2 separate regions of the Homo sapiens genome follow, and region 2 is linked to region 1. The links come from fine-mapping of genetic effects on gene expression. A gene starts in region 1. The other region holds a variant in brackets. All regions are shown on one strand. Distances are from middle to middle. Region 1 holds the start of RASSF3 (Ras association domain family member 3). Region 2 overlaps RASSF3 (Ras association domain family member 3).

What was found.
Region 2: its variant is fine-mapped to the expression of RASSF3 in T cells (TOPMed, PIP 0.95).

The regions. Positions count from the first base shown.
Region 1 is chr12:64,603,043-64,618,595 of GRCh38, forward strand. It overlaps RASSF3 (Ras association domain family member 3), which reads left to right and starts at 7,453. Exons shown (of 5, transcript NM_178169.4): 1 at 7,453-7,701. The coding sequence starts at 7,591. RASSF3-DT (RASSF3 divergent transcript) reads right to left here and starts at 6,424. Exons shown (of 2, transcript NR_187549.1): 1 at 6,303-6,424. RefSeq lists enhancers at 5,993-6,042, 6,263-6,322 and silencers at 6,953-7,022, 7,183-7,702, 7,913-7,982.
Region 2 is chr12:64,689,352-64,704,904 of GRCh38, forward strand. It overlaps RASSF3 (Ras association domain family member 3), which reads left to right. Exons shown (of 5, transcript NM_178169.4): 4 at 2,119-2,228; 5 at 5,412-8,213. The coding sequence ends at 5,561. Among named protein-coding and RNA genes, the nearest start is that of GNS, 62 kb to the right of the region's middle. RefSeq lists a silencer at 4,838-5,132. The variant T/C (reference allele first, on the strand shown) is at 6,154.

The DNA of each region.
Region 1 (15,553 bases):
GGACTGAGATCGTACTGCTGCACTTCAGTCTGGGTGACAGAGCAAAACTCTGTCTCAAAAAAAAAGAAAAAAAAAGAGTTGGGAGTGTAGCTCTTCAATTTATCTGTTTGGTTTCTTTAACTTTTTTTTTTGTTGTTGTTGTTGTTTGTTTCTTTATCTTTCAAAGGAGAAAGGTAATTATGACTTGGTCAGAGTAAGCATTAATGTCAAGGGCTTTGAGGGTCTGAGATACAAGGTAACATGATTATGATGATCAAGGATTTTTTCATCAGGTATATGCTTTCCCTTGGCCAGTTCTTATCACAGTAATGAGGAAATGCAGAAGCCTATGATGAAATTCACTTGGACACAGATACCGAACTATGGGGTTTATCTTGCAGTCCTCGTACCAGGTAGTGCCCTTTGCACAAAATATTTCAGCTCATTAGGTCCTAGATATGTTGGATGGACAAATCTAGTGATGGAAAAGCCATTTGCTTTTCTCCCCCACCTTGTCCTATAAACCGGGGTTACCTCCAGGCTCACAGGTAACACATCCTTTCCTTGATTATTGAGGATGTGCCCAAACATGGAAATACTATCCTTATACGTAATCATATTAGCTAACATCATGAGCTTTTATTATGTGCCAGGCACAATGTTTTGCATGTCTTAGTTTACTTAATCCCTTTAAGAATCCTATAAGGTAAGATTTTATTACCCTCCCTTTCCAGATGTAGAACTGAGGTTTAACCAGTTTAGATAATATGCTGTGGGTCACACCATCTGAGCCCACATTTGAACACAGGCAGTCTGATTTCCTTTTTTTTTTCTTTTTCTTTTTTGAGATGGAGTCTTGCTCTGTCGCCAGGCTGGAGTGCAGTGGCACGATCTTGGCTCACTGCAATGTCTGCCTCCTGGGTTCAAGCGATTCTCCTGCCTCAGCCTCCTGAGTAGCTGGGACTATAGGCATACGCCACCACGCCCAGCTCATTTTTGTATTTTTAGTAGAGATGGGGTTTCACCATGTGGGCCAGGATGGTCTCGATCTCCTGACCTCATGATCTGCCCACCTCAGCCTCCCAAAGTGCTCGGATTACAGGTTTTCTTTTTTTTTTTTTTTAGACAGGGTTTGACTCCGTTGCCCAGGCTGGAGTGCAGTGGCCTGATCATGGCTCACTGTAGCCTTGACCTCCCAGGCTCAAGCAATCCTCCCACCTCAGCCTCTTGAGTAGCTGGGACTACAGGCATACACCACCATGCCCGGCTAATTTTTGTATCTTTTGTAGAGACAGGGTTTCGTGATGTTGTCCAGGCTGGTCTCCAACTCCTGCGTTCAAGCTATCTGCCTGCCTCAGCCTCTCCAAATGGTAGGATTACAGGTGTGAGCCACTGTGCCCAGCCCAGGCTGATTTCTCACCCCACATACTTAACAACCAAACACATTGCCTTTCAGTTATTATACCATTTATTCCTGTCATTGCCATGAACAAAATGGAAGCAACCAGGGTGATAGTTGCAGCCAATAGGCACTGACCAAAGAGAACAGCCGCTGATTGTATCGGTTCAACTATTAAGAGCCTGTCCTCCAGCTACCAGGCTGATGTAACCAACTCTTTTTTTTTTTTTCTTTTGAGATGGAGTCTTGCTGTGTCGCCCAGGCTGGAGTGCAGTGGCGCGATCTCGGCTCACTGCAAGCTCCGCCTCCCGGGTTCACGTCATTCTCCTGCCTCAGCCTCCCGAGTAGCTGGGACTACAGGCGCCCGCCACCGTGCCCAGCTAATTTTTTGTATTTTTAGTACAGACGGGGTTTCACCGTGGTCTCGATCTCCTGACCTTGTGATCCGCCCGCCTCGGCCTCCCAAAGTGCCGGGATTACAGGCGTGAGCCACCGTGCCCGGCCATGTAACCAACTCCTATCATCTTTGAGTTTGTCATATATTTTTTTTTTAATTTATTTTATTTTATTTTTATTTTTTTTTTAGGCAGAGCCTTGCTCTGTTGCCCAGGCTGTAGTACAGTGGTGCCATCTCGGCTCACTGCAACCTCCACCTCCCTGGTTCAAGTGATTCTTCTGCCTCAGCCTCCTGAGTAGCTGGGATTGCAGGCACCCACCACATTCAGCTAATTTTTGTATTTTTTTTAGTAGAGATGGGGTATCACCATGTTGGCCGGGCTGGTCTTGAACTCCTGACCTCAGGTGATCTGCCTGCCTCAGCCTCCCAAAGTGCTGGGATTACAGGTGTGAGCCACCACACCCAGCCTGTCAGAATTTTTGAGAGAAATTTTAGAACATATTTTTTTTCCTTTTTAAAGCCAATTTAAATACCTCTGCTATGGGTTGCTTTTTTTTTTAAGGTAAGAAAATGAACTTTCTAAATTATCTTCAGGGGAACAACTTAGCAATCATTTAAAAACTCTTACTTCTTTTTCTATCTGTCTCTACTGATTCTACCAATGTCAATGGAGGAGAACAGAACGTGGCAGAAATATTATGAGAGATATGACTATTCCAGCAGGAACAAAATGATGGGAATATAGGATGATAACAGGTCAACTCAACTGGCTTAAACAAGGCAGTATCTAGGCCGGGCGTGGTGGCTCACGCCTGTAATTCCAGCACTTTGGGAGGCTGAGGCAGGTGGATCAACTGAGGTTGGGAGTTCAAGACCAGCCTGACCAAGATGGAGAAACCCCATCTCTACTAAAAATACAAAATTAGCCAGGGTAGTGGCGCATGCCTGTAATCCTAGCTACTCGGGAGGCTGAGGCAGGAGAATCGCTTGAACCCGGGAGGTGGAGGTTGCGGTGAGCCGAGATTGCACCATTGCACTCCAGCCTGGTAAAAAGAGCGAAACTCCGTCTCAAAAAAAAAAAAAAAAAAAAAGCAGCGAGATAATATCTTATGTCACATAACAAGAAGTCCTAATTAGGGTGGTGTCAAACCTGGTTAATCAAAGAGCTATGAAGTCTTTGTATTGTTCTGCTTTGCCATGGTGTCTATTTTGTCCACAATATGGCTACAGAATTCCTAGGTACCATATGCAAGCATGCAAGATCCAGAGGAAGAAGACATAGTCTTTTTTTGTAGGTTTCTTTTAAAAGTGAGGAACATCTTCCTAAAAGGCACCAAGCCAGGTTTCCTTCTGGTCTCAGTGGTCAGGTCTGTGAGACCTGTCCATGCCTAAAGCAATCCCTGGCAAGGGGAATGGGACCACTACGACTGACTCTGCACGTCAGGCCTTACCCCTGTGAGCTGAGATTGGACTTCTTTTCCCGAGGGGATTCTTGAATTAAAGTCCTTGTTTAGTTAACAAGAAAGAAGTGAGTGATGAATGTTAAGTATGCAATAAGGTCTAATATTTGGGGCAAGAAAGATGAATATTTGCTTGATCCTATTCTATGCCAAGGACTTTGCCTGGATTCTTTCACTTAATCCTTACAGTAAACCAAAGAAAATAAAATGAAGACATTGTCATCCCCATTTTGCTGCTGATGAACCTGAGGCATAGAGAAGTTAATTAAATTGTTAAAGGTCACATAAGAGTCAGTGATAGCCAAGGCAGGCAGATCACCTGAGGTCAGGAGTTTGAGACCAGCCTGGCCAACATGGTGAAACCCTGTCTCTACTAAAAATACAAAAATTGGCCGGGTGAGGCGGTGCGTGCCTGTAATCCTAGCTACTCGGGAGGCTGAGGCGGGAGGATCGCTTGAACCCGGGAGGCAGAGGTTGCAGTGAGCTGAGATCATAGCACTGCACTCCAGCCTGGGTGACAGAGTGAGACTGCGTCTCAAAAAAACAAAACAAAACTTGAACTTGGTTGCATACATTTAATTTTATTTATTCCACCCCCTTCCCTGAATTTGAAATGTTAAAAGTGTCTAGTTGCTTAACATGACATTTTGAATTTTTACAGATACAATTTTCATGAGCTAAATTTTAAATTCACAATATTTTAATTAAAAATGCTACCAGGCTAGGCATGGTGGCTCACACCTGTAATCCCAGCCTTTTTGGAGGCCGAGGTGGGAGGATCACTTGAGCCTAAGAGTTCATCAAGACCAGCCTGGGCAACATAGTGAGATCTTGTCTCTACAAAAAAAATATAAAAATTAGCCAGGCCTGGTGGCATATGCCTGTAGTCCCAGCTACTCGGGAGGCTGAGGTGGGAGGATTGCTTGAGCTTGGGAAGTCGAGGCTGCAGTGAGCCAACATGGCACCACTGCACTCCAGCAACAAAGTGAGGCCCTGTCTCAAAAAAAAAAAAAGCTACCAGAAAAATATGCAAATATCATTATGCTGCTTTTAGGAAACAAAATCACAATTCTTCCTTCCTTTATTTATTTATTTATTTATTTATTTTCTGAGGCAGAGTCTCCCTGTGTCGCCCAGGATAGAGTGCAGTGGCGTGATCTTGGCTCACTGCAACCTCTGCCTCCAGGGCTCAGGTGACTCTCCTGCCTCAGCCTCCCGAATAGCTGGGACAACAGGCATGTGCCATCATGCCCAGCTAATTTTTTTATATATTTTCAGTAGAGATGGGGGTTTCACCATGTTGGTCAGGCTGGTCTTGAACTCCTGACCTCAAGTGATCTGCCGGCCTCAGCCTCCCAAAATGCTGGCATTACAGGCGTGAGCCACCTCACTCGGCCCTTTCCTTTATTTATGTTTTTTTTGTTGCTTAAAAGCAGTGCTTCCATTTCATTATTTGATCATGGCTTTTAAAATTATTTTATTTATTTATTTTTTTAAGAGACAGACTCTTACTCTGTTACCCAGGCTAGAGTGCAGTGGTAAGATCATAGTTCATTACAGCCTCAAACTTCTGGGCTCAAGTGATCCTTCCACCTAGCCTCCTGAGTAGCTGGGACCACTAGCATGTGACACCACATTGGCTAATTTTTTTTTGTTTTTTGTTTTTGTTTTTGTAGAGACAGGGTCTCATTTTGTTGCCCAGGCTGGTCTTGAACTCCTGGCTTCAAGCAATCCTCCCACCTCGGCCTTCCAAAGTGCTGGGATTACAGGCGTAAACCACCATGCCTGGCCTAATCATGCCTTTATAAAAAAATCATTTTTTTTTAGAGAAAAGGTCTCACTATGTTGGTCAGGCTGGATAGGAACTCCTGAGTTCAAGTGATCCTCCACCTCAGCTTCCCCCTGTGCCCCACTCAATCATGCCTTTTTATTATAACTGATTCTGATGGTATGCTGACAGATATACAAATTAATCCAGTCCTTTGGAGCTTAAAAATAATACAATGAAAAAAATCATTTTTATGGTGTGGTGCATCATAAAGTTTATTTATTTATTTATTGAGACGAAGTTTTGCTCTTGTCGCCCAGACTGGAGTGCAATGGCGCCACCTCGGGTCACTGCAACCTAGGCCACTCCGGGTTCAAGCGATTCTCCTGCCTCAGCCTCCCGAGTAGCTGGCGCACGCTACCACGCCCAACTAATTTTTGTAGTTTTAGTAGAGGCGGGGTTTCACCACGTTGGCCAGGCTGGTTTCCAACTCCTGACCTCAAGTGATCCACCCGCCTCTGCCTCCTCAGGCGTGAGCCATCGCGCCCGGCCAATAAAGCATTTTAATGCATTTTTCCTCAAAGTATTCATAAACTTCAACTTGTTCTAGGTAAAATTATTTTCCCCTTTCTACCCACAATAAAATGAGTAATTTAAGCCCTTAACCTACACATTATTCTTACCTTGGAATATTTAATAAGAGCTGCGCTAATATTATATCTGAATAATGAAATAAGAGAAACCAAATAAGAAAAATTTGTCATAAAGCCCTATTCTCCTACATTAGATTATGTGCATGGCACACACACGGATCAGCTTAAGCTGGGTGAAACTATATGGAGTTAGAATTCCTGGCTTCCTATCATTCAGTAGCTGTGTGGCCGAGAAGAAGACTTTAATGTTGTAGGACCTTTAAAATGGGCTGTAACTCAAAGGCCCTCCTTCTGGAGTTGTTGTGAATCACGTGGGGTAATATATACTAGTTTACAAGATGGATGTGTAAGCCCGAAGGTGGAGCAGGTTTGCAAGCCTTCTTTCAGCCTAGGGACAGTAGGATGACTCATGAGTCAATTCTTCTCTCCTTCCCGTCATTTCGGGTCCAACTCTTCCTCCTGTAGTCCACAAAAGAGCACGGCTGACCGATACCAAGCAGAGAACCCAGTAGGGTATGTGACCACGTTCAGATCAACAGAACGCAAAGCAGAACGGTCCGAGTACTGCCTCCTACAGCCACTTTCCTTTCTTTAAGCCTCAGCTGCTGCTCTAGGTGTAAAACCGGCATAAAATAGCACTACGTACCTTGCAGAGTTGCTCGGAGGATTGAAGGAGATAATGTAAGAGAGTTTGGCTAGTTTGGCTATGATGGATGGACATTTTCTCTTTTCTAACGTCTCTCTTCCCCTCCTAATGAAACCTCTTCTGAAGCTCGCTAACTATAGCAGGGCTTGCAGCTTCAAAAAAACCTTTCAGTCAAGATCTTGAAATTAGTATTATTTAAATCAGTGCAGTAACACCAAGGTGTAAAAGACTGTTACCCACTGGTGGCTTTAAGAGGATTAGCTGACTGAAGAGTTTTAGAAAACATGGAAACTTTTTTTGTACGTGGATGGATGGAATTCCCTGATCTCCTTATCCCCACCACTTAAACCATGCCTTGTGGGTGACCGTGGAAGGCTGATTGTGGCGGGGACATTTACAAAGCACATTTAATTGATAAGCACTCGATTGTTCTGTAACTATAGAACTAGTTCACCTTTCAGTTGCACTGAGTGCGCCTAAGATAACGATCTTATTTGGAAGTGAGCCCTCGCTAGAAAGAAGGGGAAAAGGGTAAGACCGAAGCTCAAATGAATGACCAGAAAGGATGTTTTCATTCGAATAAACTCAACCCAGTTTTTGACCTCCCCACCCATCTCTGCCAACTTGAAATCCTCCTGGAGGGGCGAGCTGCTGGGGTTCAGGACTGGGCGTTGCGGCTGCAGGAAGCCGTGGGACCTGGGGGGTCCCTCGGCCGGGCAACCCCCACCCACCCCTACAGGACCCTGGTGCGGGGGCGAGCAGGGAGTGGACGCAGAGAAAGTTCCCCGCTCTGCTCCCGCCCTCTCCGAAACTCGAGCCAGCGAGGCTGGGGGCGGGCGGACGGCTCGCAGAGGAATTTGCAGTTTCCGGGAGGTTGAGGAAGCGACCCGAGCACAGCCCCAGCAGACGCAGCCCTAGCGCCCGGCTTTCCGGGTTCCGCGACGCTGTCGGGAGAAACCCGCGCGCCTGGAAGGGGCGGGCCGGGCTCCCCCCACCTGCGGGCGGGCGGGGAGGGTCGCGGCCGCGCGGGGTGGGGCTCGGCCGGTCGCCCGTCCGGGGCGGGGCCCAGGGAGGCGGGGTCGCGGGCGCACCGGGGCCGAGCCGCGCCTGGAGCCTGGCGGGGAGGCGGCAGGAGGGGCCGGGAGAGCCTGATTGAGCGGCGGCCGCAGCTGCATAAGGACTGCCCGGGGCTGCGCGCCGGGAACCTCGCGGGGCTGGCGGGCGCCGCACCCCCTCCCTGGCCGCCTGCGCCCCGGGGAGGCCGCCCGCGCGCGACGGGACCGGCAGCATGAGCAGCGGCTACAGCAGCCTGGAGGAGGACGCCGAGGACTTCTTCTTCACCGCCAGGACCTCCTTCTTCAGGAGAGCGCCCCAGGGCAAGCCCCGCTCCGGCCAACAAGTGAGTGGCGCGCGGCGGGCGCTGCAGCCCGCGCCCCAGAGTTCCGGGGAACCCGCCAGCCCGCGCCCCCTGCCTCCACGTGTCTCTGCGGGGCGCTCGGGGGATGCTCGCCGGGAAGGAGGAGCGGGCCGAGAAGTGGCTTCTGCCTTTTCGGGTCCCGGGAACGTGCCTGGAGCTTGTGCGTGTAGGCGAGGGAAGGCGGAGGAAGGGCGGGGAGGCTGAGGGCCGGCTTCTGCCTTCCGCGCCAGATGGCCTCTGCAGCTCCGCCTCGGGCTGCCGCCTGCGGGGAGCAGCCCCGGAGCCAGCAGGCGTCCCCGGGCCACTCCCCCAGGTTTCCCCTTCGCGTCCCCGCTGGGTCGACGGTCGGGTTCGCGCGCCTGTCCTTCCTGTTAGTCAGCTTACTCATCTGTGGCCCCCAGAGTGGCTTGGGTCAACGTGTAATAGCTAGGGGTGGCCGGGTGACCTGACCTCCCCTCTTCCTGGCCCGGGCGACCTGGTGGAGTGGGGGTCCAAGGGCACCGTGGGCCTCGCCACCATAGGCTCTCACTAAATCTCCGTTGCGGGACTCAGGGTTGTGCGTTTTCTGTAAAGCTAGGTTTTTTGGTGCCCAGATGTTTTGCAAACAAGCTCCTATGCTAAATACTAGCCAGCGACAGCTAACCTTTTCGCCGGTTTCTTCCTTTTTTGGAGGCAGCATGCCGTGGGAAGCACGAGTTGGGAAAAGATGGGAAGGGAACTTGTGCCAGTTTCGCCAGCTGTAGCCGTGTTTTTTGGGAGGCCTTCCCGAAACGGGGCACGTCGGCTGGACTGAGGAGCCCGGTGCTAGAGCCCGCGGCCTCCTGGCACTAGGAGCCGCACCAGGGGAGCCGGGCCAACCCGGCCACGCTCACATCAGATTACAGAAGATTGTAATGGCACAAATTTGTTGCTTTTAGAAAACAGGCGTTCGCCAAACATTTCTATTAATACCGGACTGAGACCTAGAGACTAGAAGCAAGAAGAATCGTTCAGGGGCCGGATGATAACTTCTTTTGGTGGATGTGGGAGGGTGCAATCTGTCAGGGTGGTCTTGCCAGACCTCTTAAGTTTAGCCACTTTCTGAAGTAAAATTCTTTCTAAAATTCGGAAGTTCTAGTCTTTTCAGGCTCTTAAGTCCCAAACCAGGAGGAGGAGAGGAGACGGTGAAGGGTAAGCTGAAGTCAAGTGCCCTTATTCAGTAACCGCAGTTAATCTCAAGTCCCGGTGCCATAGTTGTCCGTCTTGTATTGTTTCTAAGGCTTAAGGCCCCACTATTTACGAGTCACTTTGAGTGGGATCTCTTACTTTCAGCAGAGTGTGTTCTGAGAGCATGAGATTGCTGTGAAGTTTGGAAGTTGGAAACGCCCTCTCCTCCCCCATGCCCACCCTCCCTGGGTTGTAGAAAAATTGCATTTGCTTATGCTTTTTCCATTTTTGCTTTCTCTTTCTTGGCCTCTCTCTTCCCCTTCTCCGTTTTGCATTTTCTCCTTTCATTTATGTTGCTTTCACCACTTGACATGAAAAGGAACTCATGGTAGTTTGAAGTTTATTCCAGAGGTGTCTGCTAATCTCCTGAAAACTGGCTGGTTCTTGGATTCTCCAGGGGTGAGATGCCACAAGGGCCAAACTATTCAGGTTTGAATTGTATGAGAATCCTTTAGTGCTTTAAAGAGTAAAGACATCAGTTTTTTTCTAGGTTTATATGCATTTAGCGTTTCTTTTTTTTTTTTTTTTTTTGAGATGGAGTCTCACTGTGTTACCCAGGCTGGAGTGCAGTCGTGTGATCTCACTGCAACCTCAGCTTCCCTGGTTCAAGCGATTCCCTTGCCTCAGCTTCCCGAGTAGCTGAGATTACAGGCATGCACCACCACATCTGGCTCATTTTTGTATTTTTAGTAGAGATGGGATTTAACCATGTTGGCCAGGCTGGTCTCGAACTCCTGGCCTCAGGTAATCTGCCCGCCTTGGCCTCCCAAAGTGCAGGGATTACAGATGTGAGCCACCGCCCCCGGCACATTTATTGTTTCTATGTTGTATGCAATCATTTATGTATCATCTAGCATATATATTATACTCAGGGTAGTATTATTTAGCATTTAGAATTAGTCTAACATTAATATGTATTTTGAAATATCGTGTTGGAAATCAGGACAGGAAGACATAGTTCGTGGTTGAAGAGCTTCATATGTGTATTTGAAGCTTTATTGCCTGCATATTTTTCCCTTCTAACATAACACATGTAAGGTGCTGAGTTGTAGAAGTTATTTGCCAGGCAGAGAAAGTGTTCTAAACTACGAATTTTAGTGAGCATTGTGGTTTATTTAAAGAAGTGATATGAATGTTTTAAATTCCTGGTAAGATTGGTGAATTAGGGAAGTAAAACATCATAAATATAAAGCAAAACACTCTTAATGTAGAATGTTCCTTTTATCTAACGTTAGATAAGCCTTTTTCTTCATTTTCATGCTGATGATTATAAGAATAAGATAAGCACTTCTGACATACATCATAGTAGTGAAATTTATCCTTTCTCTAGAGAGATGGAAAGAGAGGTATTGCTAGAAGGATCTATTAGAGATACAGTGATTTTTTTTTTTTTTGGATGCTGTACCACCTGGTGGAAAAGTGAGAAAAATGAGGTTTCTAGATTTCTTGAAAATATCCGGAGAAAACAAGATGTTTGTGGTAAATGCAGAATGGGGAGAAAGGGGTGAGGGAGCGGGTGGACTGGAAATTTCTTTCTTCTCTTGCCAGGCAAGGGAACATAGTGCAACTTCTTTCTATCCCCAACAGTAACAAAAACCTTATAAAGAAAATGTTTTCATTTTTTTTCTTACTTTAAACCCCATTCTTAACAACAAGAACAACAACAAAAATGGAAAAGGGTTAAAAAACCTGTCTAGGCCACGTGTGGTAGCTCATGCCTGTAATTCCAGCACTTTGGGAGGCTGAGATGGGAGGATTGCTTGAGCCCAGGAGTTTGAGACCAGCCTGGACAACATGGTGAAACCCTGTCTCTACAAAAAAAATGCAAAAATTAGTCAGGCATGGTGGTGCTCGCCTGTAGTCCCAGCTACTCGGGAGACTGAGGTGGGAGCATTGCTTAAGGCCGGGAGGCAGAGGTTGCAGTGAGCTGTGATCGCACCACTGCACTCCAGCCTGGGCAACAGAGCGAGACCCTGTCTCAAAAACAAAACTGTCTAAAAGATATAAAGGGAACGAACATATGACGTTTTGTGGCAGTTTGAATGTCATGTTTATTGTATCCGCAGGGTCTCGATCAGTACCTGATATACAGTAGTTGCTCAGTGAATGCAAGCTGAATGAATGAATGTTTTCCTGATTTGATAGTAACTGGGTCTTTACCATTTCTTTTTTTTTTTTTTTTTGAGATGGAGTTTCACTCTTGTTGCCCAGGCTGGAGTGCAATGGCGTGATCTCGGCTCACTGCAACCTCCGTCTCCCGCGTGCAAACGATTCTCCTGCCTCAGCCTCCCGAGTAGCTGGGATCACAGGCACCTGCCACCATATCCAGCTAAATTTTGTAGTAGAGACGGGGTCTCACCATGTTGGCCAGGCTGGTCTTGAATTCCTGACCTCAGGTGATCTGCCCGCCTCGGCCTCCCAAAGTGCTGGGATTACAGGCGTGAGCCACCGCACCTGGCCCCTGATCTTTACCATTTTCAAATGTACTGTATCTTATGGTGCTCCCAAAAACTGTATGAAACATTAACTTAATGAAAGGGGGAGGTATTATTTAGTGATTGTATAAGGCCCACACCTAGATAGCAAGAAGGCTGGAACTCAGGTTTTCAGACTCAAATTACACTCTCTATTTTGTTACTTTTTAGCTATAAAAATAATTTTATGGCTCCATATTCCCTTTGCAAATAAGGACACCTAAAATTTAAGAGTTTCTTAAAATTTCTTTTCTTTTCTTTTTTTTTTTTTTTTGAGATAGATTCTTACTGTGTCACCCAGACTGGAGTGCAGTGGCAGGATCTTGGCTCACTGCAACCTCCATCTCCCAGGATCAATTGATTCTCATACCTCAGCCTCCTGAGTAGTTGGGATTACAGGCACCCGCTGCCAGGCCTGGCTTTTTTTTTTGTATTTTAGTCTAGATGGGGTTTTGCCATGTTGGCCAGGCTGGTCTTGAACTTCTGACCTTAAGTGATCTGCCCTCCTTGGCCTCCCAAAGTGCTGGGATTATAGGCATGAGCCACCGCGCCTGGCTGTTTCTTAAAATTTCAACTCCCTGACCTGCATATAGTCATGACAGTGTTTATAATTTGTATTTGTGGATTCACGTATTTGTGGATTCGCTGTGTTTCAAAGGATCCACCTAATCATTGTTTTCAGCAAAACCAAAAATGTGGACAGTTGTGTAATTTATTATTTGCCTTCTTGATTTCCCACCAAAATCAAACTACCTGTAAATACAGGACACATTCAGATTTCCAAAGAATAGAAATGGTCTAAAGTTATAATCTGTCAGAGTGTGTCTTACCTCTTAGCTAAGCTACCTCTCCTCCTGAGCCTTTGGTAGTTCATGGGAATAAGGAAATGAGACAGTATTTTTGCTTTAGAAGTAGGGTAGTCAAGAAGTCTTGAGAAACGTGAAATTGTCTTCTGAACAACCCACACTTTAAAAAAAATTGCGCTGAAGAATTTTACTTCAGTAAGTAAGTCTATTAGACTCCCCATAGCAGGCCTCAACTTCACCCTTTCGGTTTTCTCTTTCTTATTCAAATATTTTTGTGCCTCAATTATTTGGTTGTGTCTTATTGCTAGAATCAACAGTAATGAGCTGCACTCTTTTATTAGTGTTTCCATTAGAAGTTTAGAGCTAGATCACTGGGGTAAAAGAATAGTGGTTTATGACATAATAGGTATTTTGACTCTACTAGCCTTTTTCTTTTTTTTTTTTTGAGACGGAGTTTCGCTTTTGTCACCCAGGCTGGAGTGCAGTGGTGTGATCTCGGCTCTGCAACATCTGCCTCCTGGGTTCAAATGATTCTCCTGCCTCAGCCTCCCGAGTAGCTGGGATTACAGGCTCCCGCCACAGTGCCTGGCTAATTTTTTGTATTTTTAGTAGAGACGGGCTTTCACCATGTTGGGCAAACTGGTCTCAAACTCCTGACCTCAGGTGATCCACCCACCTCGGCCTCCCACAGTGCTAGGATTACAGGTGTGAGCCACCACTCCTGGCCTATACTAGCTTTTTAAATGCTGATTTTTAATTCCCGTATTATGGGGCATAAACATTTTCACCAGACATTTTGCCTAGGGCAAGGTGATTTACACATCTTTTCTGCATGTCTGATATGTTCTGTTCTTACACGATATTAATCCATTGGAATTTTGTGTTTGTGTGAGCAAGATTCACAAAGGCATATTCCTTTAAATGAATTTCAGAAGAAAAAGTTTCCAGTCCTATAAAGCCTCATATTTGAGTAGTATACTCCTTATCCCATTTCTTCTTCTGGCCAACTCACAAGATTTGGAATTATTTGGAAAGCAGTGACACAAAACATTTTTGAAAAGAAAGGCTAAAAATATCCAATAATGTGGTTATTCTTTTTAGACTTCCTTTGGCAGTCAGTGCATGTCATACGGTTAACATTCTTTTTCTGGGAGAAAAAAAAACTGAGTCTGACCAAATACTTTCTAGTGTGGCCTGATCACCAACTCTTAGCCCTGGGCATTAGCCCTCGCATTTTCCACCCCCAAGTCTCCAAGCATAAGTAGCTGTCTTTCAATAAAGGCCCCAGTTTGAAACGTGTATTTCACTCCTAATTTGGCCAAAGGCCATTGGCTAGCAGTCCCTCTTCAGAGGGGATGGTGAAAAGACAGTAGGATATATGATAAATGCATGCAAAGGAGCTTCTCTTCTATATGACAAGTCTTGGCTAACTTAGCCTCTTTGCATCTTCCTCTGTTTGAAGAGCTACACACATTTGCCTTGTAGGAAGTTTTTATTCTCATGGCAAGCAGGCATTACCTCTATTACAAGGCCCCGCTTATTGTTCACCCTGTGATGTAAGAGCTTTTAGGACTCCAACAATATTAGCCTTCTCTTTAATTCCTTTCAGGCCCCATCGCCATCTCAGAACCATGGCCTGGAGTTGCCGCCCTCCATTCTCCTTAACATGTCGACTCAGAAAAGTCTTAAAGCCCGCTGTTCTTTCCCTTCATAGCAAAAATTATAATTTATCATTATATTTTGTTTAATGAGGACAGAGACTAGCATTTTTTACCTACTACATAATATAAATGCTTGGCACTTAAGGTGCTTGAACAAATGAAAGCCTGCTCATTTTGGATGGATGTCCCAGTATTTGGTACTGTTAGTTTTCCTTTATACACAAATGTACACAATGTCTCCCCCTTTCCAAACTAGACCATAAGCCTTCACAGTATCTTACAGGTAGTAGTGATTTAAAATGGGATGATATTGGTAATATCTGTGATTACTGGTTAAGCATAACTCACTTTATATACTTTCCCCTTGTTTTAAGAAAACTCATCATTTATTCATTAATATATTTAGTTGACAATTTATTGTGTGCCTCCTATGTGCCAGATACTGTTCTAACCTCTGGGGTTAGGGTGGTGAACAATACACAGTCCCTGGCCTCTTTTGGCAATGTTTTTAAAAAGCTTACCCAATAGGCAAATGAAAATATCTCTCTAATTTTTCCCTAAAGAGCTTGCTCCTTTAGTGTATTTGAGGAAACTTTGAAATGTAGTTTTTCAGGAACACACCTATTTTGTAGTGTGGTAAAGCTATACATTGATTGATTGATTGGTTGAGACGGAGTCTTGCTCTGTCACCCAGGCTGGAGTACAATGATGCGATCTCCACTCACCGCAACCTCTGCCTCCTGGGTTCAAGCAATTCCCCTGCCTCAGCCTCCCCAGTAGCTGGGATTACAGGTGCGTGCCACCACATGGGGCTAATTTTTTATATTTTTAGTAGGGATGGGGTTTCACCATATTGGCCAGGCTGGTCTTGAACTCCTGACCTTGTGATCTGCCCGCCTCGGCCTCCCAAAGTGCTGGGATTACAGGAATGAGCTACCGTGCCCGGCCCTATACATCTGTTTAGATGGGAATGTTGACGTGGAAGTGTATCACTTCCTGTTTTACGTCCCTGTGTAAAACAATCACATTTCCTTATTGATGACTGTCTTCCAACAGAAACGTAATCATCTTCAAGGTTAGAAAATGTTTTTTAAATAACTTCAACCAGCGTTAACCAAACTGGTTAATTCACCAAAATGTTAACCAAAATTAACCAAATCAAATTTGGTTTATTTTCCAGGTCTCTTTTTTCTTTTCTTTTTTCATTTTTAAAGAGATGGGATCTTGCTATGTTGCCCAAGCTAAAATGCAATTGTTATTCACAGGCATGATAATAGTGCCCTATAGCCTCGAACTCCTGGGCCCACATGATCCTCCTGCCTTAGCCTCCTGAGTATTCCAGGTTTTTCTTAATAGTTTAAACAGGTAGTTCTGGTTTGGCTATCAGTAGTGTTGTCAAATAGCTTTTGTTTGCTTAATTTTATTTTTATTTTTTTTGAGACAAGTCTTGATCTGTTGCCCAGGCTGGAGTGCAGTGGCGTGATCTCGGCTCACTGCAACCTCCACCTCCTGGGTTCAAGCAATTCTCCTGCCTCAGCCTCCCAAGTAGCTGGGATTACAGGGGCATGCCACCATCCCCGGCTAATTTTTGTATTTTTAAAGTAGAGACGGGGTTATACCATGTTGGCCAGACTGGTCTCAAACTCCTGACCTCATGATCTGCCCTCCTTGGCCTCCCAAAGTGCTG
Region 2 (15,553 bases), 86 kb after region 1:
CAGGATGAAACCCAGCTCATTGCTGAGTATGCATACATCTTTTTAAAAACAAACCATGGGGCTAGACCCTGTGGAATACAAAGATGAACAGGCCAGGGTTCCTACCTTCAGAGGTCACAAGCTTAGTATTGTGGGGGCTTATATCTATAGGGAAATTGGCACCTGCGATGCAGTGCATCTGGAAGTGCCACAATAATGTAGAGAAGCTCGATGGCATTTTTATCTGCCAGTTTCTTTGCCTGCTCACCTGGACTTTAGCTGTACAATCTGAAAGTAATCGTGACTTGTTGAAATATTACCCCCATGGCTGGCAAATCCTTTAACATGATTGGCAATGTCACTGTATGTGTGTGTCTAGCATGAGACATATATAGCTGTGCTTGAAGCTACCGGAGCTTATATTCTGATTGCTTGGTTTGTAGCTGCTAATTCGCTAATTCTTTTTTTTTTTTTGAGACGGAGTCTCGTTCTGTCACCCAGGCTGGAGGTGCAGTGGCGCAATCTTGGCTCACTGCAAGCTCCACCTCCCGGGTTCACGCCATTCTCCTGCCTCAGCCTCCCGAGTAGCTGGGACTTACAGGCGCCCGCCACCACGTCTGGCTAATTTTTTTGTGTTTTTAGTAGAGACGGGATTTCACTGTGTTAGCTAGGATGGTCTCGATCTCCTGACCTTGTGATCCGCCCGCCTCAGCCTCCCAAAGTGCTGGGATTGCAGGTGTGAGCCACCGCGCCTGGCCTCGCTAATTCTTAATTAATCTGTAGAGAGATTTGCTTTTAGAACTCTTGTTTTTATGTTCTTTGGATGGTATATACATTTTTTTTTAAATTTGTTTTTTGTTTGTTTGTTTGAGACGGAGTCTTGCTCTGTTGCCCAGGCTGGTGTGCAGTGGCACAATCTCGGCTCACTGCAACCTCCGCCTCCTGGGTTCCAGTGATTCTCCTGCCTCAGCCTCCCAAGTAGCTACAATTACAAGTGCCCACCACCATGCCCAGCTAACTTTTGTATTTTTAGTAGAGACAGAGTTTCACCATGTTGGTGGCCAGGCTGGTCTCAAACTCCTGACCCCAGGCAATCTGCCTGTCTCGGCCTCCCAAAGTGCTGGGATTACAGGTATGAGCCACCACGCCTGGCCTTGGTTTTTGAGACAGCGTCTTACTCTGTCACCTAGGCTGGAGTACCATGGCATGATCATAGCTCATTGTAACCTTGAACTCCTGGGCTCAAGTGATGCTCTTGCCTCAGCCTCCTAAGTAGCTAGGACTATAGGCGGGCCCCATTATGCCTGGCTAGTTAGAAAAAAAAATTTTTTTTTTTTGGAGACCAGGGTCCTGCTATGTTGCCCTGGCTGGTCTCGAACTCCAGGCCTCAAGTGATCCTCCTGCCTCAGCCTTTAAGTGTTGGGATTACAGGTGCGAGCCACTATGCCTGGCCTATTTTTATTGTTTTTAAAGGAGTAGTGGACCCTTTTTTAGGTTTCTTATCTTGCCTTTTTTTTTTCATTTAAAAAAAATTTTATTTATTTTTTGAGACAGAGTTTCACTCTTGTTGCCCAGGCAGGAGCGCAATGGCACGATCTCGGCTCACTCCAACCTCCACCTCCCAGGTTTGAGTGATTCTCCTGCCTCGGCCTCCCAAGTAGCTGGGATTACAGGTGCCCGCCACCACGCCCGGCTGATTTTTTGTATTTTTAGTAGAGACAGGGTTTTGCCATGTTGGCCAGGCTGGTCTCAAACTGCTGGCCTCAGGTGACCCGCCCACCTCGGCCTCCCAAAGTATTGGGATTACAGGCATGAGCCACCATGCCTGGCTCTTACCTTGTTTTCTAAAAGGAAGAGCAGAGCTAACTATAAGCATATTTTGGGACTAATATCTATTAAAATTTATTCTTGAAAATAATTTCCTTCTTAATCAAGGCACAGTTTATATTTGAACAGAAACAGAATAGATTTTATTCCACTGTGGGCTACTGGTATTAAATAATAAGATGAGCCGACTGGCGACTTAGAGGCTGGGGTAACTTGGATGGTTACCTTGATCTGGAGGAGGGGATCACAATGGGGAAGTGGTCTCAGGAATGGCTGAATACTCTGTAACATGCTGCTTGTTTCTTTACCCAGTCTACGCCTGCAAGCTCTCAGACCGGGAACATCCACTCTACCTGCGTTTGGTAGCAGGGCCCAGAACAGACACACTTAGTTTTGTTCTTCGTGAACATGAAATTGGAGAGGTAAGTTATTGTTCACTATTGCTTTAAACTATACAGAACAGCTGGCCCTATTTTATTGCAGTAGCCTAGTGACTTGGCTATTGATGGGGGATGGGAAGAGAAGAGAGTTGGAGGGCAGGGGGATGGGAAGAGAAGAGAGTTGGAGGGCAGGGAGAGGGAGAGGGATTTTGAATTGTCAGAAATGAACCCAAAGTTAGCCTATGATGTCATTCTCTCACAACCTTATATTATTAGTCTGTCATTTTCAGAGGTGGGAGAAAATAAAGTTTTTTTACTTGATCTCCATCCAGAGAGTCATTTTCACCCCTTCCCACCTCCAAAATACTCCAGTCCAGCTGAACTTTGAAAGTTGACACTCACCATGTGTTTGCTACTAACAAAAGTCTCCAGGCTAATTCCCTTCTAAAGGGATATAAAAGGAAATTCGATCTCTTTACCATGGAAGGCATTTAGCTTTCTAGCATCTTTTTTTTCCCCCTTGCCCAGTCAACTGATTAAGAAATTATGTTTCCATGTGCATCATTTGCCATGTTGTCTCCAGGGAGGATTGTATTTAGCCAGTTCAGTAGAAGAAAAAAAGCACTTGAGCCTGCCCTCTAGATCAAGTGTCAGCTTTAAATGACACTTGAGCAAATCCCAAGCTCCTGTCCCAGTCTTCTGTCTGGAACAGGAAATGGTGTGAAATGTCCTACATGGTGCAATTGAGAATAGGGTTTCTAGGTTAAAAGTTAGGAAACGGCTCTGTTTCCTACTGTTTGTTAGATTAGTAGCATGACCTTGGATAAGTCTTCTAATCTTTTAGCCCTCAGTTTTAAAATCTGTTAAGTGGGACTAAACACTTTACAAGGTGGGCTTTGAGTCACAATTAGAAATGTATACATGTAAGTGAAGGGAGTTTTAGGAAGACAGTGGTTTTACATGTTTTTGAAGTTTCTTTTGATTCTGGTGTTTTGAAGCTTTTCAAGACATTCAGACTCATTTTGGGGAGAAGGCAGGGTGCAGAAATCTGACTTGGCTTTGCAGATGGTGACCATTCCCTCTGCCAGCTTAAGCCAGACACATTAGCATAGTCTACTCAGTGTTTTATTTTTCTTGTACTTAGTGTTTTAAGTAGCAACTAGAACTACATTGGGCAAGAATTTTATTAACTTGGTTATTTTATTGTATTTTAATTATAATTAGAGATAGGGTCTCACTACGTTGCCCAAGCTGGTCTCAAACTCCTGGGCTCAAGCAATCCTCCCACCTCAGCCTCCCAAAGTGCTGGGATTACAGGCATGAGCCACTGCACCTGGCCTTAACTTAGTTTTGAAATTGACTTGACATTGGGTTTTATTGTTCCAGACTGCTGTACTGGACCTCTGTATGGTGTTCTTATTTCTCAGTTATTTAAGGAAAACTGAACTGAGGAAGAAATTTCCATAGCTGTTAGGGGGTGGGAGGGATATTTATATGATGTCTTTATTTTGGAGACTTCAACATAGGTGAAAGATAATCTGTTAAAATTTTAAAAATTAACAGAATATTCTAACGTAGAAGTTTTGCTCTCCTACTCCATGTTGCTCTTTTTTTTTTTTTTTTTTTTAAATAACCAGCCTAAACTGTTCTCCAGGAATTCTTCTACCACTGAGCCCATTTGGTGGATTTACTTATTTTTCACTCTTTGTTTGTATTTGGTTATCTTGAATCTTTTCTCTACACCATCAGACAGCAGTTCTCCACCAGGATCCAGGGCCCCCTTTGGGAGAGGAGGATGTGTTTGGAAAAAACCTCGTAGATGATGCTAGATACCCTCCTTGACATTCACTGCTTCTATTTTTTAAAATCTGTTTTAATTTTTTTTTTTTTCTTTTTAAAGAGACTAGGTCTTGCACTGTCACCCAGGCTGGAGTACAGTGGCGCAATCATGGCTCACTGCAGCCTCAATCTCCCGGGCTCAAGCAATCCTCCTACCTCAGCCTCCCAAGTAACTGGGACTACAGGAATGTACTGCCACAGCCAGATAATTTTTAAATTTTTTGTAGCGACCTGGTGTCACTATTTTGCCCAGGCTGGTCTCGAACTTCTGGTCTTGAACTTCTGGGCTCAAATGATCCTCCTGCCTAAGCATTCCAAAGTGCTAGGATTATAGGCATGAGCCACAATGCCCAGCCTAAAAACTTATTTTGTGCCTGCTAAATAAGTACTAGGAGCTGTTAGGGAAACAAGGCTCAGAGCCTCAAGGCAAGAGATAAACTCCAAATAGCGAGAAGTACGGCAGCTGTGGTGTAGGTAAGGTGCAGGTGAGATAGATATTAAGCAAATAATTGTAATTTAAAAATCTTGGTTGTGATCAGGGGCTCTGTGAAGGCTTTTGATACACTTAGCCTTGGGTGGGAAGAGAGGAGAGGAAGTTGTGGAAAGCTGCTTAGAGAAAGTGGCATTTAAGCTGAGATGGGGAGGATGAGTAGTTCATAGCCAGGCAAAGTGGAGGAGGGGAGAATGCGTGCCACTTGGGCAGAGAGTGAAGCTCGGTGAGAGAGAGATGGGGCCGGAGAGTTTAGAGTCTTTCAGACAGCATCAGCAACTAAGGGAAGCCATTGGATGGTTCTAAGCAGGGGAGAGTCTTGGCCAGATGAGCATTTTACAAAGGATGTTCTGTTTGGGGAACAGATGGGGGAGCATAAGAGCCGAGTGAGGAGGCCAGGTAGGAAGCTGTTCCAGCGATGCAGGAATAGATGATAGTAGCTAGCACCAAGGGGCCGTACCGAGGGAGAAAAGGCTGAATGGAGAACTGTTTGGGGGTGATAAGACTGATTATGCGAGGTAAGAAAGTCAGTTACAATGAGGACTCGAGGTTAAGATGAAAGGACTGTCGAATTGTTTTTAATGCTGTTGGGGGTCAAATCAGGTAAGGAATGAAAGTGTCCAATAGACTTAGGGATATGGAGGTCTCTGGCTTTTAGGGAGATCGTCTTGAACAGTGGGAGGAGAGGGTAGGAAGGTGATTGGTGTGAGCTGAGGTGGGAGTGGGAGTGGAGGGAGCCCTTAGGCTGGCAACACCCCAGCTCTTGCAGACCACACCTTCTGCGGCATGGGGCTGGGAGGGGAGGGCAGCCGCACCTCTGGGAGCTCCTGGTCAGCATTCCTAAGTCTAACTGAGTATTAAACATCTGGCATTTTTCTTTCTGTGTTTCCTGACAGTGGGAAGCCTTCAGCCTTCCAGAACTACAGAATTTCTTGCGCATCTTGGACAAGGAAGAAGATGAACAGCTGCAGAACCTGAAGAGGCGCTACACAGCCTACAGGCAGAAGCTGGAAGAAGCCCTCCGTGAGGTGTGGAAGCCTGATTAAAGCGGGGCTCCCTGCCCGTGAGGCCCGGTGCAGGACCGATGTACAAAACAGCAGCAAGTGCCTCTCTTCTCAGAGGGCTGCTGTCTTGCCCCACTATGCTAGGGTCTTCGCCTTTCTATCTGTAGATTTTGTTCCCCAAACCTGGTCACACAGCATCCTGCACCTTAGCGTCCCATGTAAGGGACTCTGCAAGCTTGTTGTTCAGCACCGCAGTGTTACCTCTTGGCAAGCTGTGAACCTGTCGCCTCATCAGGAGCATTCGAGGGTGCTTGGAAGCATGAACTCTGGGGGTGTTTTTTTTTTTGGTTATTTTAATTATGTGATGATGCTGTTAAGCTTACAGATATGCAGTTGATTTTTTAAAAAGCTTAACTAGGAATCTTTCTGAATACTTGTCCTATTTTGAAACTACCTGTCTGGTTTTTTGTTTGGTTTTGTTTTCTTTTTTTAATGTCAGAGGAATCTATCCATGTGAATCGAAAGGCACAGGAATCTAGGAACTCTGAGGAATTTATTGTGAAGGATTTTGTTAGGGGGTTGACAGAGAAAGCAAAGTGTAAGTTTGGAAGAAGGCATGTGCGGTGGTGGCGAG[T/C]GCTGCGGGCTATGGAAGGTGACTTGGCTTTTCAGTTAGGGGTAGTGGAGAAAGGGGTAGTTGCTTGTAAACGAGTTAAAAGCATTCAGTGTGGAGGTGTTAAACCCATTTTAGGATCGCTTGGTTTCCTGGTGGGTAGAATATGGGAACAGAGCCAGAGGCAGGAGCTAAACCAAAAGGAGGGACCCATGAACTCTGCAGCTGACCAATCAGAGAATCAGGCAGGTGTAGCCTACTGACCTGGGCAGAGGTGGGCCTCACGCAGCTGGATCCGACCCTTTAATTCTGCCCTTTTGGAGTGGAAGGTCTGATTGGTGTAGCTGCTCTGCATAGGCAGGACAGTGACAGTTCACTAACTCTTGTTAAGTTACATAGTGTATAGCTTTCCCCCCACAGGTGGTTTTCAAAGTTGAGACGGAATTTGGGTAGGGGCAGCTGTTTTTCCCTTGATTGTTAGCTAGGATATTTGTCAAGTAAACTTTGGTGACAATCACTCTCTTCCCTTTTATTCCTCCTTTCCTTTTCCTTTCTTCCCTTTTTTCTTTCCTTCCCTGCTGTCTCCCACCCTACCTTGTTCTTTTCCTCCCTCCCTCCCTCCCTCCCTCCCTCCCTCCCTCCTTCCCTCCCTCTCTCTCCCTCTCCCTTTCTTTTCTACATTGAAATCTGTTCTTACATAATAGAGAACAGGGCTATTGAATAAAGACCCAATCCTACCAGATCTTTAGTTCTAAAGGGCAACTTGACTGTGAGTAGGAGGGCCCCCAAGAAAGGGAGGAAAGTCCACACCCAGCTAACCACACAACAGGGCTTCATTATGGAAATATTTTAACAAAAGTACATGTTATTACCAACCAAAGAGATGCATGTGCAATAGAAGCCTTCCTTAAAAACAGGCTAAATAACCTCATTTTATGCAGCAGTTTAATCTGAGAACAGAGGGAAAGGTGTGCAGTGGTTCCAGAGGGGCCTTATATTCTATTTTTAGTCTAGATATTTTTTGTTTATAAATTCCCAAGGAATTGTTAACACTTTGGTGACACCTAATGGATTCTTTTTGAAATTCCAAGGTGCTTCAGTTCTTTGCCCAAGTGAACTGTGCCTTTTATTGCATTTCTGTTCGTCTCTTGGTGGCTCTTCTGACTTTTTGGAGAATACCCATCTTGTTGGAGGCAGACTTAAGTTGTTATGCTGTGCCACACAATTTACTGAGACAATCATATCTTCCTAAGCATTTAAGGAAAGTTGAAAAAAATAGAATTAGCTATAAAATATGTATGGCACATCTTGTTTAATTTTGCATGTAACTTCTCTTTTGTACATTGATGAGGTTTTAGTGACATTGTCATCCAACACTTTACCTTTATTGTTCAGGGAATGCCTTCGTGATTTTTTGTACTGGTTTTATTATTCAGACTATGGCCTGGATTTGAGTATATTGTTATTACCACCTGGTTTTTTAATTATTCATCCCAGTAAACTTATATTTTGTGAAGCATTTGTTTCTCAGATTAAGACACTGTTAGAACCTAAAGTAGTAGCTGATGGGTATCTGTGAATTTTTTTTTTTTTTTTTTTTTTACTTGAAGTAGATTGTCTGAATAGGCATCCTCATCTATATTTACCCAAAACCTCGCTTACTGTCATGTGCACTACAAATTGCAATTTGGAAACCTACTGTATTGAAATTCTGTCAGTTTATGGTTCTTGAAGACTGATGTCCTTTCCCAAACACTGGTTACTGCAGCAGCATTTTTAATGTGTAAGTGAAGAAAAAAGGCCACTAAGGCCAAAGATTTTTTAAGAATCATTGTACAAATCATTATGTTAAACTATCTAAGCTTTGCTGTAATACTGTTTTCTCTTCAATATGTGATGGTACAGGAAGGATGTTAAATGAAGGGGTGGTATTGCAGGAGAGCATTTTAAATGGCAGAAGTAAAAAGTTATAATATTTATAATTTTGATGGGTTTAAGTTTATTTTTGTAGGGAAGATTTTTCTCCCCTAAAATAGTTTCTAGAATGGCAAAATTGTTTCCATTATTAAAAATTGAAGTTATTAGTTGTTTATGTGTGTTTATTTATGATAATATGCTAGATTTAAAAAGGTCACAGGAGTGCGCTGAGCTGCTTTTGCACATATACACAGGGACACATGCTGGAATGCAACAACTTTACTAGGTTCGCGTGGGTCATATTTGTTCTCCCAGATATCATTTTCTCTTTGCCTTATCCTCTGAGGAAAAATAACCCTAAGCTCACACAGCATATTCCAATGTATTTAAAACAATTGTTTTAATTTTTGAAATATACACATTTAAAAGTATATAAAGCATGCAAAAGAGGAGGGAGGCCGAGAGTGAAAAAATAAAAATAAAAAAGCATGCGAACAGTTTAAAGGATTATTATATAAAATGGACACCCCCTGACCATTACTAAAATAGAACCTTGTCAGTTCTTTAGAAATCTCTCCCTCCACCCCTGTTCTTGCCCTGAGGTCTCCTACCCCTGAAACATACCACTTCAACATAAAGTGAGTATTTGTATTTTTTTGGTCACCATGACTGCCTTACACAGATGGGATGGATAGTGTCTGGGGAACCACAGGGACGATGGAGTGCCACCCTCTGCGCACCTGCACCTCGGCTTTGTGCCATGGTTTCAGCTTCCATGCCTGCTGTTGGGAGTGTTTTTACTACTACACTGCCCCCTGGAGGGGCTGATGAAAGGAGCAAGGCTGGCACCAGGTGGTAGAGGCCTTTCACGTACCATAGCTGCTCCCTAAATAAAAATACTGTGATAGAAAATTATGGCTCTGTATAATTTTGCTTTTCTACTGAAATATTCAGAGGAATCAGGTTTGGGGGTTCTACTTGGGTTACTACCCAAGGTGCGTGGAGAATGTTTGGGAATTTTTATATTTTTATCCTTTATTTTTTTTGGAGATGGAGTCTCAATGTGCCACCCAGGCTAGAGTGCAGTGGCATGATCTTGGCTCACTGTAACCTCCACCTCCCAGGTTCAAGCGATTCTCCTGCCTCAGCCTCCCTAGTAGCTGGGATTACAGGTGCCTGCCACCATACCCGACTAATTTTTTTTTTTGTATTTTTAGTAGCGACGGGGTTTCTCCACGTTGGCTAGGCTGGTCTCAAACTCCTGACCTCAAGTGACCAACACACCTCAGCCTCCCAAAGTGCTGGGATTACAGGTAGGACTTTTTTTTTTAAGTCAATTTTTATTACTAAAAAAAAACCTTTTTTTTTGAGATAGAGTTTCACTCTGTCTCCCAGGCTGGAGTGCAGTGGCACGATCTGGGCTCACTGCAACCTCTACCTCCTAGGTTCAAGCAATTGTCCTGCCTCAGCCTCTGGAGTAGATGGGATTACAGGCGTGTGCCACCACACCTGGCTAATTTTTGTATTTTTAGTAAAGACGGGGTTTCACCCTGTTGGCCAAGGTGGTCTCAAACTCCTGACCTCAGGTAATCTGCCGGCCTTGGCCTCCCAGAGTGCTGGGATTACAGGTGTGAGCCACCGTGCCTGGCTCACATGAATATTTATTGAAACAACAGTTATCAGTTGGTGACAAATTCGGAGACACTGTCAGATAACGCTAATTAGGTATTTTGTTTTATTGAAAGAAGGGGGCTGGGCGCGGTGGCTCATGCCTGTAATCCCAGCATTTTGGGAGGCCGAGGTGGGCAGATCATGAGGTCAGGAGTTTGAGACCAGCCTGACCAAACATGGTGAAACCCCGTTTCTACTAAAAATACAAAAATTAGCTGGGCGTGGTGGCGCACACCTGTAATCCCAGCTACTCAGGAGGCTGAGGCAGGAGAATTGCTTGAGCCAGGGAGGCGGAGGTTGCAGTGAGCCGAGATCGCCCCATTGCACTTAGCCTGGGCGACAAAGTGAAACTCCGTCTCAAAAAAAAAAAAAAAGAAAAGGGGCCAGGCACAGTGGCTCATGCCTGTAATCCCAGCACTCTGGGAGGCCAAGGCGGGCTGATCTCTTGAGGCCAGGAGTTCAAGACCAGGTTGGCCAACATGGCAAAACCTCTTCTCTGCTAAAAATATAAAAATTAGCCAGGCGTGGTGGCACACGACTGCTGTCTCAGCTACTCAAGAGGCTGAGGCAGGAGAATTGCTTGAACCCGGGAGGCGGGGTTCAAGCCCCGTGATTGCGCCACTGTACTCCAGTGAGCCGTGAGTACTGCAGTGAGCCATGATTGCGCCACTGTACTCCAGCCTGGGCAACAGAGCAAGACTCTATCTCAAAAAAAAAAAAAAAAAAAAAAAGGGTGGTGGTGAAGGTCTACACTATAGTAGCCAATGCCAACAAAGTGCTTACCATGTGCTAGGCATTCTTCTGAAATGCTTAATATGTATCAACTCATTGACTCTCCTGTGACGTTATCACACTATTTCGTCATATCCCTTTTTTCACAAATGTGGAAATGGACATGTTGAGGTTTAGCAGCTTGCTCAAGGCCACTGTGTGAGTGAGTGGCAGAGCCGGACACTGCCCCGTTTCTCTACCATCTTTTCCTGTAAGTGCTCTCTAGTTTCTCAGTTAAATTGCCTATTGAGTAAAGGAGCAAAAGTCTGTTAAATTGCCGTAATGGACAGTTTGCCCAGAAGCGTAACTGTTTTGGTGCCATTGGGGTTTGTTGATATCAGTGTGTTCTCATCCATTTTGGTTCATTTATCATTTCATTCAGGTGATTATACTAAGTCACATAGAATGAAATGCTGACCTGTGCTTTCTTTTTATTTTTTCGGATGGGGTTTCACCTTGTCATCCAGGCTGGAATGTAGTGGCGTGATTACGGCTCACTGCAGCCTTAACCTCCTGGGCTTAAGAGATCCTCCCATCTCAGCCTCTCAAGTAGCTGGGACAACAGGTGCCTGCCACCACATCCAGCTAATTTTTTTTCATTTTTGTAAAGATGGAGTCAGGCTATATTACCCACGCTGGTCTCAAACTCCTGGGCTTAAGTGATCCTCCTGCTTTGGCCTCCTAAAGGGCTGGGATTACAACCACCATGCCCAGCCCAGACCTGTATTTTCATTTAGAGGTTCTGTTGCATGGGGGAAATAACACGGCAGGTAACCAAACTTAGTGGTCTCACTGTAGTTGGTAAGACAATTCTCCTGGAACCACCAGAAGAACAGCTTCAGTACTACAGAGTGCTATAGGAGCCACAAAACTTGTGCAAAGGTTTGACTCATGGAACCATTCCCCCAAACAAGGCTCATCCTCTGCAGAGAGAAACTAGGAGGTAAGTATTCAAAGTCTAAAGCATATGCTTGTGTGGTGTGAATCACTACTTGCTTAATTGAATGTTCAAGAAAGAAGTTTTATATAAGGATAAAGGTGGGGGGGCAGGTGTGGTGAAGGCTGGAATAGGAGGGAGTGGGGACTAGCTGGGTTATATACCAACAACTCTGAAGCTAAATCATTTATTCCATCTTCAGGCTTGGATCTGGGTTTGGGTTTTTGTTTTTTGTCTTTTGGGGTTTTTTTGCCTGTTGGTTTTGGTTTCATTTTGTTTTGTTTTTTGACAAGTCTTTCCCTATTCCAGGAGATGAGAATAGCAGGGTACAGGATAGACCCCTTTGATCTTAAATAGTGTTTCCAAAGGATGATTGTGGTTCTCACGTGTCTGGCTGAGGCTGCATTTGGCATCAAGTGAACTCTGAAAGCTCCTCTCTTCTTCTTGTTTCTGAGAAATGTGAGCACCTTTAAGTATTATTTACGCACAAACAACAAAACATCAGGGCTCTTTGTAAACCTCAAAAGAAATTGGGATTTGACTTTGTTTTGGGGAGGGAGTTATTTCAATCAGGAGAGTTCATTTTTTTCTCTTTCTAAACGAGGAGTTCCGATTACAATGGGCCTGGGTCATTAAGGGCATCTATCTGGTTTGTGTTTGCTGGCATATGTACTGCCGGCTGTTGAGCCACGCTTTGTGGACACGTGGGATTCATTAAGCCCTCTGTGGTTCCTGTCTCTGAAGTGGCTTTCTAGGGAGGCTCTGCTCTACAGGGTTTTTCCATTTACAGGTGCAATAAAATTTGTTTAAATTCTAAAAATTCTGAAGCAGCAAACTTTAGTGCCTTGCCAAAACTTAGAATTCTTGAATTACTGCTGTTGCAGGCAGGGAGGCAACAGCTTAAATTCAAACCTTTTACTCAGAACTATAAATGGTGTCTTCAGATTCTTTTAAAGATGGTGAACATTTCAAACATTTTTCTTGCATATGTGATCTTTGCAAGGAAAACATTCATAGTCAATTTTGTTTAGGTCAGATTGAGTATTTCGAGGCCTTATTAATAAAAGATGCTTGACTGAGCAGGTAAGGCCAACCATAGAAACTGAGGAACAAAAAGACCAGCTTTCAGAAAACTTCCAGTTCTTTTTTTTTTTTTTTCTGAGACAGAGTCTCACTCTTGCGCCCAGGCTGGAGTGCAGTGGCTCGGTCTTGGCTCACTGCAGCCTGCGCCTCCCAAGTTCAAGCGATTCTCCTGACTCAACCTCCCAAGTAGCTGGGATTACAGGCACCCACCACCACGCCCAGCTAATTTTTGTATTTTTAGTAGAGACAGGGTTTCACCATGTTGGCCAGGCTGGTCTTGAACTGCTAACTTCAGGTGATCCACCCGCCTCGGCCTCCCAAAGTGCTGCGATTACAGAGGTGAGCCACTGTGCCCAGCCATCAGAAAACTTCCAGTTCTATCGCCTTTATCTAGATACAGTTTGTATAGGAGTTTGTGTGTGCTGGGGAAGGAAGTGGGCTTTAAGGGTGTAGTGGTGTTGGGGAGGCCAGAAATAATGTCCCCTTTATCATGGAAAGTTATTTGTTATGAAGGTGGTAGTTAGGAAAAGGCAACGTTTAGGATCTTTCGGAAGATATTTCAAGACAAAATGAGGTTACCACACTATTTCTTCACAGACTGCCTTCGGAACTGTGGAAGGTGCTGAATTTTGTTTTTTCGAGGTAGGTCTTGCTCTGTTACACAGTAGCATGATCATAGCTCACTGAAGCCTCTAGTTTCTAGGCTCAAGCAATCATCCCACCTCAGCCTCCCAAGTAGCTGGGACTAGAGGGGCATGCCACCATGCCCAGCAAATTTTTTAATTTTTTTGTAGAGATGAGGTCTGGCTATGTTGCCCAGGCTGGTCTCGAAATCCTGGCCTCATGATCTTTCTGTCTTGACCTCTCAAGACACTAGGATTATAGGTGTAAGCCACTGCCCAGGCTGATTTTTTAAAGGCAGATTTTTCTGTTCATTGACTCTGAAGCTACTTAATCTGAATCTCTGGTACTGGCCCCTGAGAATCTGCCATTTTAATAAGTGCCCCCTATTTTTTCAAATGCTGACTGCAAATCCTAGAGCTCTACAGAGGGTTTCTGGGGCTGAAGGGATACATCATTGTGCACAGAGTATTTCCCTCATACCCCTTGTTTTGAAATTTTAAATAAATTACTTCCAAATTGAGAGTAATGACTAGCCTGCAAAGAGGCTTTCTGACCTGCCTCACTTAGCCCTGGAAAGGACAATTCTATATACCCTGTTCCCCTGGACCATGGCTAATTGGATCTTAGACCTCTGTTGAAAGGCCATTGATCAACTAGATTTTCTCAAAATTTTATTTATTTATTTATTTATTTATTTATTTATTTATTTAGAGACAGAGTCTCGCTCTGTTGCCCAGGCTGGTGTGCAGTGGCATGATCTTGGCTCACTGCAGCCTCCACCTCCCGGGTTCAAGTGATTCTTGGGCCTTACCCTCCCAATTAGCTGAGATTACAGGTGCCCACCACCACACCTGGCAGATTTTTTTTTTTTTTTTAGTAGGGATGGCGTTTCGCCATGTTGGCCAGCCTGGTCTCAAACTCCTGGCCTCAGGTGATCTGCTCGCCTCGGCCTCCCAAAGTGCTGGGATTACATGCATGAGCCACCGTGCCGGCCATAGCGAAACTTGTGGCCAGCTACTTGGGAGACTGAGACAGGAGAATCTCTTGAACCTAGGAGGCAGAGGTTGCAGTGAGCCGAGATTTTGTCACTGTACTCCAGCCTGGGTGACAGAGTGGGACTCCCTCTCAAAAAAAAAAAAAAAAAAAAAATTACTCTTGTTACTCTTATTCTGTTCTCTCTCTCTACATATATATATATATGTATGTATACATACATATATATATGTATGTATACATACATATATATATGTATGTATACATACATATATATATGTATGTATATAGTGACCTCTATTATCTATTGGCTAGCTTCAAAGAAGCTTGCCAAATGACAAGTGCTGATATTGCTGCTGCAACCAACTTCATAGGTCTTTCAGGAATTTACTGTTTACAAGTGTCTGCAGTATGAAGCTTTAATGCATATGATCTATAATATTCTAACCTAACATTTAAGCTTCCACATTATTGGAAACACAGTCGGGTCTACATGTGGTCTCTTCTTTCCCTCTTTCCCTCCCTCCTTTCTATCTTATTTAATGTCCTTGTATCCTGTGATATCTGTACTCTTTTTTTTTTTTTTTTTTGAGATGGAGTCTTGCTCTGTCGCCCAGGCTGGAGTGCAGTGACACAATCTTGGCTCACTGCAAGCTCTGCCTCCTGGGTTTATGCCATTCTCCTGCCTCAGCCTCCTGAGTAGCTGGGACTACAGGCGCCCGCCACCACGCCCAGCTAATTTTTTTGTATTTTTTTAGTAGAGACAGGGTTTCACTATGTTAGCTAGGATGGTCTCGATCTCCTGACCTTGTGATCTGCCCGCCTCGGCCTCCCAAAATGCTGGGATTACAGGTGTGAGGCACCATCCCGGCCTATTTATTTTTTAATTGAGATGGAGTTTCGCTCTTTTTGCCCAGGCTGGAGTGCAATGGCACCATCTCGGCTCACTGCAACCTCCGCCTCCTGCTTTCAAGTGATTCTCCTGTCTCAGCCTCCCAAGTAGCTGGGATTACAGGCATACATCACCACGCCTGGCTAATTTTGTATTTTTAGTAGAGACGGGGGTTTCTCCATGTTGGTCAGGCTGATCTCGAACTCCCGACCTCAGGTGATCTGCCCACCTCGGCCTCCCAAAGTACTGGGATTACAGGCATGAGCCACCACACCTGGCCTGTTTTTATTTTTTATTTTTCAAGTCCGCACTGCCTGGTCCCATGACCCACCCCCTAGAACTGGGTAGATTATGATGAGTGAGAACATCATGAACTCTGTTATGAAAATCAGAGTCCATGTGTAGTGTAAACTGTTAAGTGTCATAGAGATAAAATTCAGTGTACTATGAGTGTATAACAGGAGGACAGAGAAGGCGTCCTTGAGAAAGTGATTTAGAGCTGAGATCTTGAGGAGGAGGAGGAGGGGTTACCTAGA